Homo sapiens: one gene and its partner. The protein of the gene in region 1 interacts with the protein of each later gene in a pairwise test. Each region holds a gene or a part of one and is shown on either strand. Other genes may lie near its edges.

The links.
Region 2: the proteins of NGRN (region 1) and PRKAG3 interact in a two-hybrid assay, tested with the Homo sapiens proteins (one study listed by BioGRID).

What each region holds. Positions count from the first base shown.
Region 1 is NC_000015.10:90,268,511-90,272,838, forward strand, and holds the end of NGRN (neugrin precursor), read left to right. Parts: intron 1-2,677; coding exon 2,678-3,278; 3' UTR 3,279-3,701; downstream 3,702-4,328. UniProt on the Homo sapiens protein: Plays an essential role in mitochondrial ribosome biogenesis.
Region 2 is NC_000002.12:218,821,556-218,828,839, forward strand, and holds the end of PRKAG3 (5'-AMP-activated protein kinase subunit gamma-3), read right to left. Parts: intron 7,046-7,284; coding exon 6,964-7,045; intron 6,508-6,963; coding exon 6,449-6,507; intron 6,324-6,448; coding exon 6,278-6,323; intron 6,075-6,277; coding exon 6,020-6,074; intron 5,819-6,019; coding exon 5,692-5,818; intron 5,539-5,691; coding exon 5,373-5,538; intron 3,022-5,372; coding exon 2,984-3,021; intron 2,814-2,983; coding exon 2,667-2,813; intron 2,324-2,666; coding exon 2,207-2,323; 3' UTR 2,091-2,206; intron 1,600-2,090; exon of another isoform or gene 1,535-1,599; intron 1,522-1,534; 3' UTR 753-1,521; downstream 1-752. UniProt on the Homo sapiens protein: AMP/ATP-binding subunit of AMP-activated protein kinase (AMPK), an energy sensor protein kinase that plays a key role in regulating cellular energy metabolism.

The DNA of each region.
Region 1 (4,328 bases):
GTCTGGGACCAATTCTCTGTATGCTTTAGGTCATATTTCTCCCTGCATAAGATTACTCAAGGACCTCTGTCCTCAACCTAAAGCTCTCTCTCATTCTTTTGTTCCCAGCTGGTTCCCAGGGTGCCTACCCTTTGTTTGTTTGTATCACTGCAATAAAACTGCTCTCCTTAAATCCATCAGTGACTTCCTCAGTGCTAGGCTCAAAAAGACACTTTGTAGTCCTTAGCGTCCTAAATAATTCAGCAGCATTTGCCCTTGTAAAAACTGCCTTTTAAATTAAAATATATATATATATTTTAAATAAAGACAGGATTTTGCCATGTTGCCCAACCTGGTCTCCAGTTTCTGAGCTCAAGCGATCTGCCTGCCTTGGCCTCCCAAAGTGTTAGGATTACAGGTGTGAGCTACTGCACCCAGCTGAAACTGCTTTCTCCCACCCCCCCCCCCCCATTATTTATTTATTGATTGACACTGATTCTCTCTTTTTTTTTTTTTTTTTTTTTTGAGACGGAGTCTCATTCTGCTGCCAGGCTGGAGTGCAGTGGCATGATCTTGGCTCACTGCAACCTCTGCCTCCTGGGTTCAAGTGATTGTCGTGCCTCAGCCTTCCAAGTAGATGGAATTACAGGTGCACACCACTATACCTGGCTAATTTTTTTTTTTTTTTTTTTTTTTTTGGATTTTTAGTAGAGGTTGGGTTCAGCGTGTTGGCCAGGCTGGTCTTGAACTCCTGACCTCAAGTGATCTGCCTGCCTTAGCCTCCCAAAAGTGCTGGGATTACAGGCGGGCGTGAGCCACCATACCCAGCCTTTTTTTATTTTTATTATTTTAATTTTACTTTAAGTTCTGGGGTACATGTGCAGAATGTGCAGGTTTGTTATATAGGTGTACATGTGCCATGGTGAACTGCTTTCTTAAAATTCTCTTCTCCCTTGACTCCAGGGTACCATTCCCTTCTGATCTTTTTTTCTTTGTTTCTAGGGCTGCTTTTCTCAGTTTCCTTCCTGGGCTCCTCTTCTACCTCCTATATCTTAAATATTGTTATTTCATAGAGTTCTGTCCTTGTCATTTTAGTTCACTCTGCATATTTCCCTGCCTGATGCTAGCCACTCAGTCACCCCTGCTATTGGCTTATGACTTCCAAATCTGTCATCTCCAGTTCATGTTTTTTTTCCTGAAATCTAAAGGCATATATTCAACTGTGTACCAGACATCTCTGTTTTGGATATCACAGTTTCCTCAAACTCAGCATGTACAAAATAGAATTCATCGTTGTTCCCTGACAACTTCATTCTGTTCCTGTTTTTCCTATAACCTACTGATTACCCAAGCTAAAATCCTGCATCTTGGCCTTGATGATGCTTCCCCCAATATTTAGTCCCTTAGTACCAAGTTGTACTATTTGACTTTCTTAAAATATTTCTCAACTCACTTTCCTCCTATGCTCCATTGACTGTCTCACTCGAGACTATCTGGATTACTGTAAAAGCCTCTTGACCAATCTTTCTGCCTATACTTTTGTCACTGAAAAACTACCACTAGGTTGAATTCCTTTTTTTCTTTTTTTAATAGAGATGGGATCTCCCTGTTTCCCAGGCTGGTCTCGAACTCCTGGGCTCAAGCAATCCTCCTGCCTCAGCCTCTCAAAGTGCTGGGAGTGAGCCATTGTGCCAGGCTGTAGGTTGAACTTCAAAATGAAAATTTATCTGTGGCATTCCACTGCTTAAAATTTTTCCTTGACTTGCTGTTGCCTTGGGATAAACTCCAGACCCCTAAGTGTGATCTACTTCTTACCCTCACTGTCAGTTGAGTTATTCCCAACAAAGGTGATGTGCCGCTTTACATTTCACAAGCTCTTCACTTTATCATCAGTATCTTTCATCTCTCCTTCTCTCCTCCCTTCTGCCAGCTTATTACTCCTTTCATCCTTTCAGACCAACTCTAGCTTGGACTTCATGAAGCAATTCCTGGGCCTGGCTATAAGTGTTCTTATTCCCTATATCTGGGTCTCCCTCCTGGGGTGCTGTCTTTGCATCCTGTGCTATAACCTTTACCATAATGTCATTTATTTTGTCTGTCCCCACTCCCAAACTATGTAATGGGAAGGTCAGTCCTCCTGCGTCCCCAGGATCTATTGTGGTATTAGATGTCAGTGAGAGGAGCTGAGTTGATGTGAAATGAAGTGACCTGACTGACAGTGGTCAGGTGTTGCTGTTGACACACAGAAATGGAACACAGCCATTTAACTAGCACAAGATAGGGACTAGCACAAGATTTAGCTAGCACAAGATAGGGACTACATTTGCGGTTTTTCAAGCTCTCTTTTTTTGTTTTTTTGGGAGAGTCTCACTCTGTTGCCCAGGCTGGAGTGCAGTGGTGCAGTGGTGCAATCTCGGCTCACCGCAGCCTTCACCTCCCAGGTTCAAGTGATTCTTGTGCCACGTGGTAGCTCATGCCTGTAATCCCAGCTACTTCGGAGGCTCAGGCACAAGAATCACTGGTCTCGAACTCCTGGGCTCAAGTGATCCGCCTATCTCGGCCTCTCAGAGTTCTGGGATTACAGGTGTGAGCCACCATGCCAGGCCTCAACCCCTCTTCTTTATCATAGGTATTGCGAGTTAGATGTTCTGATAGGAGACTTCTTCACAACTTGCAAACCTGCTCCTTCTTCCCGTAGGTATTTACATGAGGAATTTCCAGAGTCCTGGTCAGTTCCCAGGTTGGCTGAAGGCTTTGATGTCAGCACTGATGTGATCCGAAGAGTTTTAAAAAGCAAGTTTTTACCCACATTGGAGCAGAAGCTGAAGCAGGATCAAAAAGTCCTTAAGAAAGCTGGGCTTGCCCACTCGCTGCAGCACCTCCGGGGCTCTGGAAATACCTCAAAGCTGCTCCCTGCAGGCCACTCTGTATCAGGCTCTTTGCTTATGCCAGGGCATGAAGCCTCATCTAAAGACCCAAATCACAGCACAGCTTTGAAAGTGATAGAGTCAGACACTCACAGGACAAATACACCAAGGAGAAGGAAGGGAAGAAATAAAGAAATCCAGGACCTGGAGGAGAGCTTTGTGCCTGTTGCTGCACCCCTAGGTCATCCAAGAGAGCTGCAGAAGTACTCCAGTGATTCTGAGAGCCCCAGAGGAACTGGCAGTGGTGCGTTGCCAAGTGGTCAGAAGCTGGAGGAGTTGAAGGCAGAGGAGCCAGATAACTTCAGCAGCAAAGTAGTGCAGAGGGGCCGAGAGTTCTTTGACAGCAACGGGAACTTCCTGTACAGAATTTGAGTCGGGGCTTGGCTTATGGAGATGCCTCGTGAAACACAGCTGGGCAAGTATTAATGTATATGGAACAGCCTGGATTTCTGCATATGGATAAGCCACCTTGGAATAGGAAGAGGTGTTGAGCCTGGACTGTGGGAGGAAAGAGCTGCGTGGATAGATTCAAACTTCCTGTGGTAGTGCTCCCAGTCTGACCTCTGTAGACCTTCAGTACTCACTCTTCTTGCTTAGGCTCTCTGTGTGTTGAAAGCCATCCCGTGTTGCATGTGTTGTTACAATTTTCTGTGATACTTGCAATTTATGTTTGAGAAGAAGTGAAAAGTTTGCCTTCTGACCTCATTTCCTTCTTGATCAGTGAACACTAACATTTTGGGGACAACTTAGTCAATTGGTTTTCCTTACAACAAAATAAAGTAAAATGTAGCAGTCTGCCTCTTTGGTGCTCTTTGGGGTGGGATGGTTTACCTGTGAACCTTGGAGAGAGGGAAGGACAAAGGCAGAAAGGAAGGATCCCTGGTCAGTAAACATTGGGAGAGAGATGGAACCAGAGGAATTTCCCAGCAAAGGGCTCTGTGCAGAGCATCCTGCTTAGTGAGGGATTCTGACAACTGAAAACTGGACGCCTTTCTTTTAGTTGCTGGGGTTCTGGCAGAGATTGGGAAATGAGGGGTTGGCAGAAAATACAAAGCAGGCAAAGGCTTTAGGGCCCTTATAATCTCCAGCCACATTTTAAAGTTTATATTAAGAGCTGGGCATGGCAGAATGTGCCTACAGTCCCAGTTACTTGGGAGGCCGAGGTGGGAGAATCGCTTGAGCCTCGGAGGTTGAGGCTGCAGTGAGCTATGATTGCACCACTGCACTCCAGCCTGGGATAACAGTGAGACCCCCATCTCTAAATAAAATCAATCGATCTTCAATTATGTCTCATTATACAGTTTACTTAACCAGATTTTTACAATGGTGCCATGGTGTAGGCAATCCCGGATTAAGAGGTCCCTTTTACAAATAAGGAAATAGACTTTAAGATGGCTGCCAGTAAGTGGCAGTGCTGGGACT
Region 2 (7,284 bases), on another chromosome or scaffold:
GAACTCAGGACACTTACAGTGCATTTGGAAGAATATATGATGGGTTAAAGAATAAAAGCCTCCTCTCTCCCCCACTGGTCAAGATTCCATAGGTTGGCAGGGCTTGGGGAGCAAGGCGAATGTTGACATTTCTGGAATTCTTGAGAAAAGGACCCTGAGAAGGAGGTTGCGGCTAAAGAGGGGGAAAGTATGACAAATACTCCATATAGGTTTGGAGGTGATAAGTGTAGGCAAGCACTGGGTAGAAGAACCCACACGCTTCCTGGGTAGAGCCTGGGAAAACAGCAAGCCACAGAGCGGAACAAGGGACTGGGCTGTCTATCTTAGCAGTTGGCCTGGAACAGAATTACTGAGCTTCCTGAAGCCAGAGGGTGTGCAGGGCCAGGAGCTAGAATCTTCCACATGCTCCAAGCCACAGGTCCCCAAATAGGCTTTGTGGAAGTGAAGGAGCCCCTGGCAGACCTTGCATGACCAACTGATGACCAGATGGGGAGGGGATGTCCAGGCAGGTGCGAGCATGGACGGATGATGATAGCCGAGGAACAGAGTCTTACATGACTTAAAGCCACACCCCCACCCGACCGAGCTTAACCCCAGGAAAAGGTCAGGGGGAGACTTTGAATTGACTGAGATTAATTTCTACCACCTGCTGAAACGGGGTTCCTAATAGAAATTACATTCTGTGTTAGAAAAATAAAGTTATGCTTCTTGCAGATTAGAGTTTGTAGGCTGAGTTGTACCTACTATATAAGTAATGAATTAATTTTTTCTTTATGATTTTGTAAAGAAAAGAGAAGAAAGAAATTTCAGTAGAATAGCGCTACATTGCAAGAGAAACGGCACTTGTGATTTTTATCCATTTTCCTTCTAGTCTTTGAATTTAGAAAGCACAAGTCTCTTGCCACAAGTTCAGGTCAAATGACTGCAGCATTTTGAGTGAAACCAATAAAATCTAAGTTCATGGATTGTTCCTTTTGTTTTGTTTTCTCAATTGCTCATTCTCAGGGGTCCATATACAAGGCCATCCATCCCTGGAGACTAAGAACATGGCTCACTGCGAGAGCTAAGGAGTTTTCTGGACAAGAATGGAGGGAGGACTCCCCACCTCCAACAGGCAGTTCTATAAATAACGGCTGCTCCATGGTGGCCCCTGAAATGCAGCATTTCAGCAGCCTTGAAATGACAAAGCCTGGAGAGTAGGAGGGCAGTGGCGACGTTGCTGGGAACAACAGCTGGGACTCCCAGGAGCTGAAGGCTGAAGCCATAGGTAGCCCAGAAACCGAGGAATCCAGAAGCCCTGACTAAACCCACTGGGGCCATCCGACCCAGTCAGGCGGCAAGGGGATGGGCGGGCATGGAGCACAGATGGCCCTGGGGTAATCCTAGTGCCTCTGGTTCAGGGACCTCCAAGCTTGACTCAGCTGTTCTCCTTAATTTCATCATCCCATGGTGCACTGGGCATGCCCGAGGGCTTCTGGGAGCACAGGTAGGGCAAGGGCAATTTGGGAGGGCTGAAGAAGCCTGTGGGGAAAAGAAAAGGGAAGATGGTGACCACATAGGAGGGACAGCGGCCTTTCCAACAGGGGACCCTTGCCAGCCATGGTGAGTAGATGGAATCTGTGCCCATCCTCTGCAAGCCCCTAGCAAACGTGTGACCAGGAAAGAGTCTGAGATCATGTCACATTTCCTGAGATGAGCACGTAGGTAGAAGCTCCTTCCTTTAAGCTTTAGTTCTTACTGGGGATGGAAATTCCATCCAACAAATGTTGATATAGCTTGCTTCCTTCTAAGGGGATTTCCAGCAGGTGGAAATTGAATTGTGAGGGAACAAGTAAATCTTCCCAGAGTGTCTGAAGTCACATCGCAGCCTTAGCTTTTAGCCGGGGCTTTGTCCCTCCCTTCTAGGACAGTCTCCATGACCTCAGCTGAAAATGGGACAAAGTGGGGACCTGTGAGTCCTTACACTTGCAGTTTTCACAGGGCTGCTCAGCTTTGAGCTTGGCCACTCCCATCCTCAGGGTGTCCCAATCTGAGATCCAGGAAATCAGGAAGACTAAGAGGCTGGTGTCATGGCCCAGGGCAGAGCCTACCTGAATCATAGCTGAACCAGCAAATGGGGGTGGGGGAAGATGAAGGCTGAGTTCTCCAGTTCCCTTCATTGGCTTCCAGGTGTGCAGGTGGCTTGGGATTGAGGACTCAGATCTTCTCAGGCCCCGAGGGCATCGATGCCAGCAGGGCTGAGCACCAGTGCCTGAAGGATGTCGGAGAGGGAGACCACGCCCAAGAGATGCTGGGTCTCGTCCACTAGCACCAGCCTGTGTACCTGTGGGTCCGCAATGTTCAGTGAGGGGGCAGAGCCATGGGGCTACAGCAGCTACTGAGGTTGGTGCCAAGAATCAGGGGAAACAACCCAACATGACTGAGGGAGAGAGCGTCTCCTAGAAACCAGTTAGGGATGGTGTGACCGGCCTAAGGTGATCAGTTGGCAGTGACCCCTGGCATAAGGGCCCCATGGACAGGACCAGGTGCAGGCCAGTGTGGGCACCAGGAGTTGGTCATGAAATGGAAGGATAGGCCAGGTGCCCGATGTTCAGGGATGGCTGGAGCCGTGCATGAGAAGGACTGGGCTATATGTGTTGGGGGCATGAATGGAGGGCACACGGTACCTGCTCCCGAGCAATCCTGTCGATCACTTCCCCCAAGCTCTCGTGGGGCTGGCAGGAAAGGACTCCCTCCAGACATAGTGTCCTCTGCCTCAGGGCTTCTCCCACACTCATGTCCAGGTGGTTGTAGGTTTGCTGGGCAGCCAGGTGCTGGGGCAGAGAGAGAAGTATGGCTCCTAGTCACCCCCTTGCCTGGGCTCCTACCCTACAGATGTCAACCCCTGCATACTTGTCAAGGTCCCCCTGGTCCACAGAGGCCCCCCACCCATCCCCACACCCTTAGCCTCCCTGCAGCATCCCACCTTTCCAGCGACACTTACAATCACATCAAAGCGGGAATAGAGGCCCACGACCTGACCTGCAGAGGGTGGTTGTGGGGGGTGGGGGGAGAAAGACAGGGAAGAGGCTCCGGTCAGAACCGGGGTGCTGTGTAGAGGGCCTAGGGCTATTTGCATCAGGGTGCCACTACCAGAACCCAAGGATCAAACTTAGCATCCCAGAGTGAGACAGCCTGACATTGAGCATCCTGAGGAAATGCAGTGTGAGTAACATGGCACCACCTACAAAATAGTCTAGCCTCGAATTTATTGCCCAAATCTCTTCAAGCCTTTAGATATAATTTCAGTTTACAGGAAACCCAGGAATAGAGAACAAAGTAAAGGCCAGCTCTAGAAAGCAAACAGACAAATCTGGATGTGGGGTATCCTATAGGACAACTGACCCAGGCTTTTCAACTCACCCACGTCATAACAATTTAGGGGGAATGGAGCTGTTATAGATTTAAAGAGATTTAAGGAACAAAAGACACGAATGTAAACCATGGACTTCAATTGGATCCTGTTTTGAACACATCAACTATGAAAAATACATTCCCTTGGGAGGCCGAGGTGGGTGGATCACAAGGTCAGGAGTTCAAAACCAGCCTGGCCAACATAGTGAAACCCCATCTCTACTAAAGATACAAAAAATTAGCCAGGTGTGATGGCACGCACCTGTAAACCCAGCTATTTGGGCGGCTGAGGCAGGAGAATTGCTTGAATCTGGGAGGTGGAGGTTGCAGTGAGCCAAGATTGCACCATTGCATTCTAGCCCAGGCGACAGAGCAAGACTCTGTCTCAAAAAAAAAAAAAAAAAAAATTCTTGGCCGGTCGCGGTGGCTCATGCCTGTAATCCCAACACTTTGGGAGGCCAAGACAGGTGGATCACTTGAGGTCAGGAGTTGGAGACTGGCCTGGCCTATATGGTGAAACCTCATCTCTACTAAAAATACCCCCCAAAAATTAGCTGGGCGTGGTGTCATTTGCCTGTAATCCCAGCTACTCAGGAGGCTGAGGCACAAGAATCACTTGAACTCGGGAGGCAGAGGTTGCAGTGAGCCGAGATGGCACCACTGCACTTTAGCCTGAGTGACAGAGGGAGACTCCATCCCAAAACAACACCCAAAATACCCAACATTCTTGAGGAAATGGAGAAGTGAGAATAAGGATTGGATGTCAGACAATAATATGAATTATTCATGGTTTTGTTTGGTGGTATAAAATGCACTTTTTTTTTTTTTTTTTGGAGTCTCGCTCTGTTGCCAGGCTGGAGTACAGTGGCGCGATCTTGGCTCACTGCAACCTCTGCCTCCCAGGTTCAACCGATTCTCCTACCTCAGCCTCCTAAGTAGCTGGGACTAGAGGTGTGCGCCACCATGCCCAGCTAATTTTTTTTTGTAGTTTTAGTAGAGATGGGGTTTCATCATATTGGCCAGGATAGTCTCGATCTCTTGACCTCGTGATCCGCCCACCTTGGCCTCCCAAAGTGCTGGGATTACAGGCATGAGCCACCGCCCCTGGCCAAAAATACACTTGTTTTAAGAAGTGCAGACTAAAGTGTTTAGGGGTGAAATGACATGATGTCTGTAATTTACTTTGAATTACTTCAGAGAAAAAGATGAACTGGTTATGGCAATATAGTAACAGTAGTTAATCTAGGCAATGGATATAGGTGGTTCATTATGCAATTTCTTTCTACCATTTCTATACATTTGAAGTTTTTTATAATCAAAAATAAATTGAAAACACTTCTTGATATCTATCTTAATTATGGTGATTTTAGCTTTGAAATATTTCATAGCCATCATTCAACCAAAGAAATAATCTTGTCATTTCTGCAGCCCTTTTTCAGTGTAGGAAATTGAGGGCTGGCTGGGGGCCCGAGGTCCCATGGCACATTTAATTTTTTAAATTTTATTATTTCGTTATTATTATTTTAGAGACAGGGTCTTGCTCTGTTGCCCAGGTTGGAGTGTCACTGTATGTAAACTCAAACTCCTGGCCTCAAGCGACCTTCTCGCTCTGGCCTCTCTCAAAGGGCTGGCATTACAGCCATGCACCACGTGTCCGGCTCCATTTTAAGATGAACTGAAACTAAAATCTGCTGCTTCCTCTCGCTATGCCCATTTTCATGCACATAACCTTTTAAATCCTCCTGTGAAGTCAGAAAGATGAGTGTTGTGAAGAATCCCATTTCACAAAGGAGGAAACTGAGGCACAGAGAGGCTAAGCAACTTGCCCAAGTCTCAGAGTAGACGGAGACTTCTAATCCCCAGTCCATCCTGTACCCCCCACAGGGATGGCATGAGAAACCCTGCCCTTCCCATATTCTCCCCACCAGGTTCTCCCAGGCCCCAGCCCAGCCCGAGCCTCTCATCCTGGGGGTGGGTACCACATTCGTTGACCACAGGCAGTGCAGACACACGCCGGTCCACAAAGATGTCCAGTGCAGTCAGGATGGGTGCTGTCTCCAGCACCACAGCCAAGTCTCGGAATGTGCCGATGCCCAAATCTTGGATAGTGCGGTAGAGGAAGGAGGGCCGGGGCAGCAGGGAACCCTGGTTAGGATGGGGACCAGGTGGAGATCAGGGATCCAGCAGCTTCAAGAGGGCTCCCAGCTCTTCCCCACGACTGCTAGGGCTGAAGACTCCTCAGGCCCTCTGATCACCTGCCCAGGTCTCCCCCTTCCTCCCACCTGGGCCCAGGCTTACAAAGATGTGCAGGAACTTGAGCAGGCGTTTGTGTGTGAGGATGTGGAGTACGTTGCCTGACACCGGGTCAAGAACAGGCAGGCGATGGATCCGGTTCTTGATGAGGGTGTAGACAGCTTCAAACAGGCTGCAGAGATGGGAGCAGTGAGCCTCGGGGCAGCCTAGGGAGAGACAACCTCCATCCCAGGCCCCTAAAAAGGAGGGCAGGGCACCAAGGCTCCCTTGTCTGTGTGCCGCCTAGGATGAAGAGGTGAGTTCAGAGCTGAGTGGGACTGGGGAAGGGGACTGTGGGAGGAGGAGGCTCAGGTGAATGAGCAGAGACACCCACCTATCATTAGGAGAGATGGAGACCAGAGGCTTGAAGCAGCCTTGCAGGTAGATCTCTGCAGAAAGAGCCAGAGTCAGGCCAGGGGAGCCGGTCACCTGCCTCACCTTGCAGTCCCAGGCAGCTTCCCTTCCGTCAGGCACCCGAGGCTCCTATTGTCCCTCCCCTGTTCACTCCAGGACATCCCCACTGCCCATCCTCCACCTTAAGCCCTGGCCCACCATCACCAACAGCCCTTTCCGGGTTCCTCTCCCCACTCACCCCTCCAGGTCTCAATCTTATGTTGTTCAATCTCATAGATCTGGACCTAGAGACATCGACAGGACTCCAGAAGTCAGAAAGACGTGGGCTTCTAGGGCACCAGGCTCCAGGAGGACTCCCCTCCGCCCCCGCCCCTCTGGGTGCCCATAAGATTCCCAGCCCACTCCTCACCAGGGGGGACCTGTAGTAGCGATGCAGCACCAGGATGAAGTCAGTGATGGTCAGCATCCCTGCAGGGAGGGGCGGGGAGGAGGTCAGCCCGGGGCCTTTGGGTGGAAGGCAGGTTGAGGGTCAGATCCCCTCCCCACCCTGCCAGTGTCCTTGTGCTGAGACACAGTGGGGACTGTGGGAACAGGACAGTGGGGCAGCCCCCCAGGCCTGAGAAGTGGGGCTCTTTCTCTCCTGCCTCCCCCCATTTGCTCCCTAGCACCTATGGCACAGGGCCATGCAGTAGCGGAGGTGAAAGGTGTCAGCTGGTCATAGCGGCTCCACAGATGGGGAAATTGAGCCCCAGGGTCTCCCAGCTGGCCATGCAGACTCCGGATGGACTTTCCTCCACCCTGGCCCCTGGCTGGGCTTGGCCTGAAGCCAAGCTTGTGGTATATCAGAGATCAGCCCCAGAACAACCGTACAAGATCTCCCCCTCACCTCCTCCATCTCCCTTCACCTCCCCAGCCTCTCCTCACCCACAAAGCTCTGCTTCTTGCTGTCCCATAGAGGGGCTGCCCGCACACCGTTGGCCACCAGAGCAAAGAAGGCCTTCTTGATCTGAGGGGCCAGGGAGAACAGTCAAGGGTGGGTCCCGAGAGACCCTCACCCCCCTCTCTGCCCCTCAGTGCGCACCTCCCATCTGCCTGCTGTCCCCTCCCTGTCCCACCCAGGGTTCTTCCATGGGGCCTTCTCCTGGACCCTCCTCTACACCAGCTGGCCTGTCTTCCTCATGTCACAGTACACGCTAGACATGATCGTTGCTGGGGACATGTACATAGATAAGGCTGTGGCCTGAG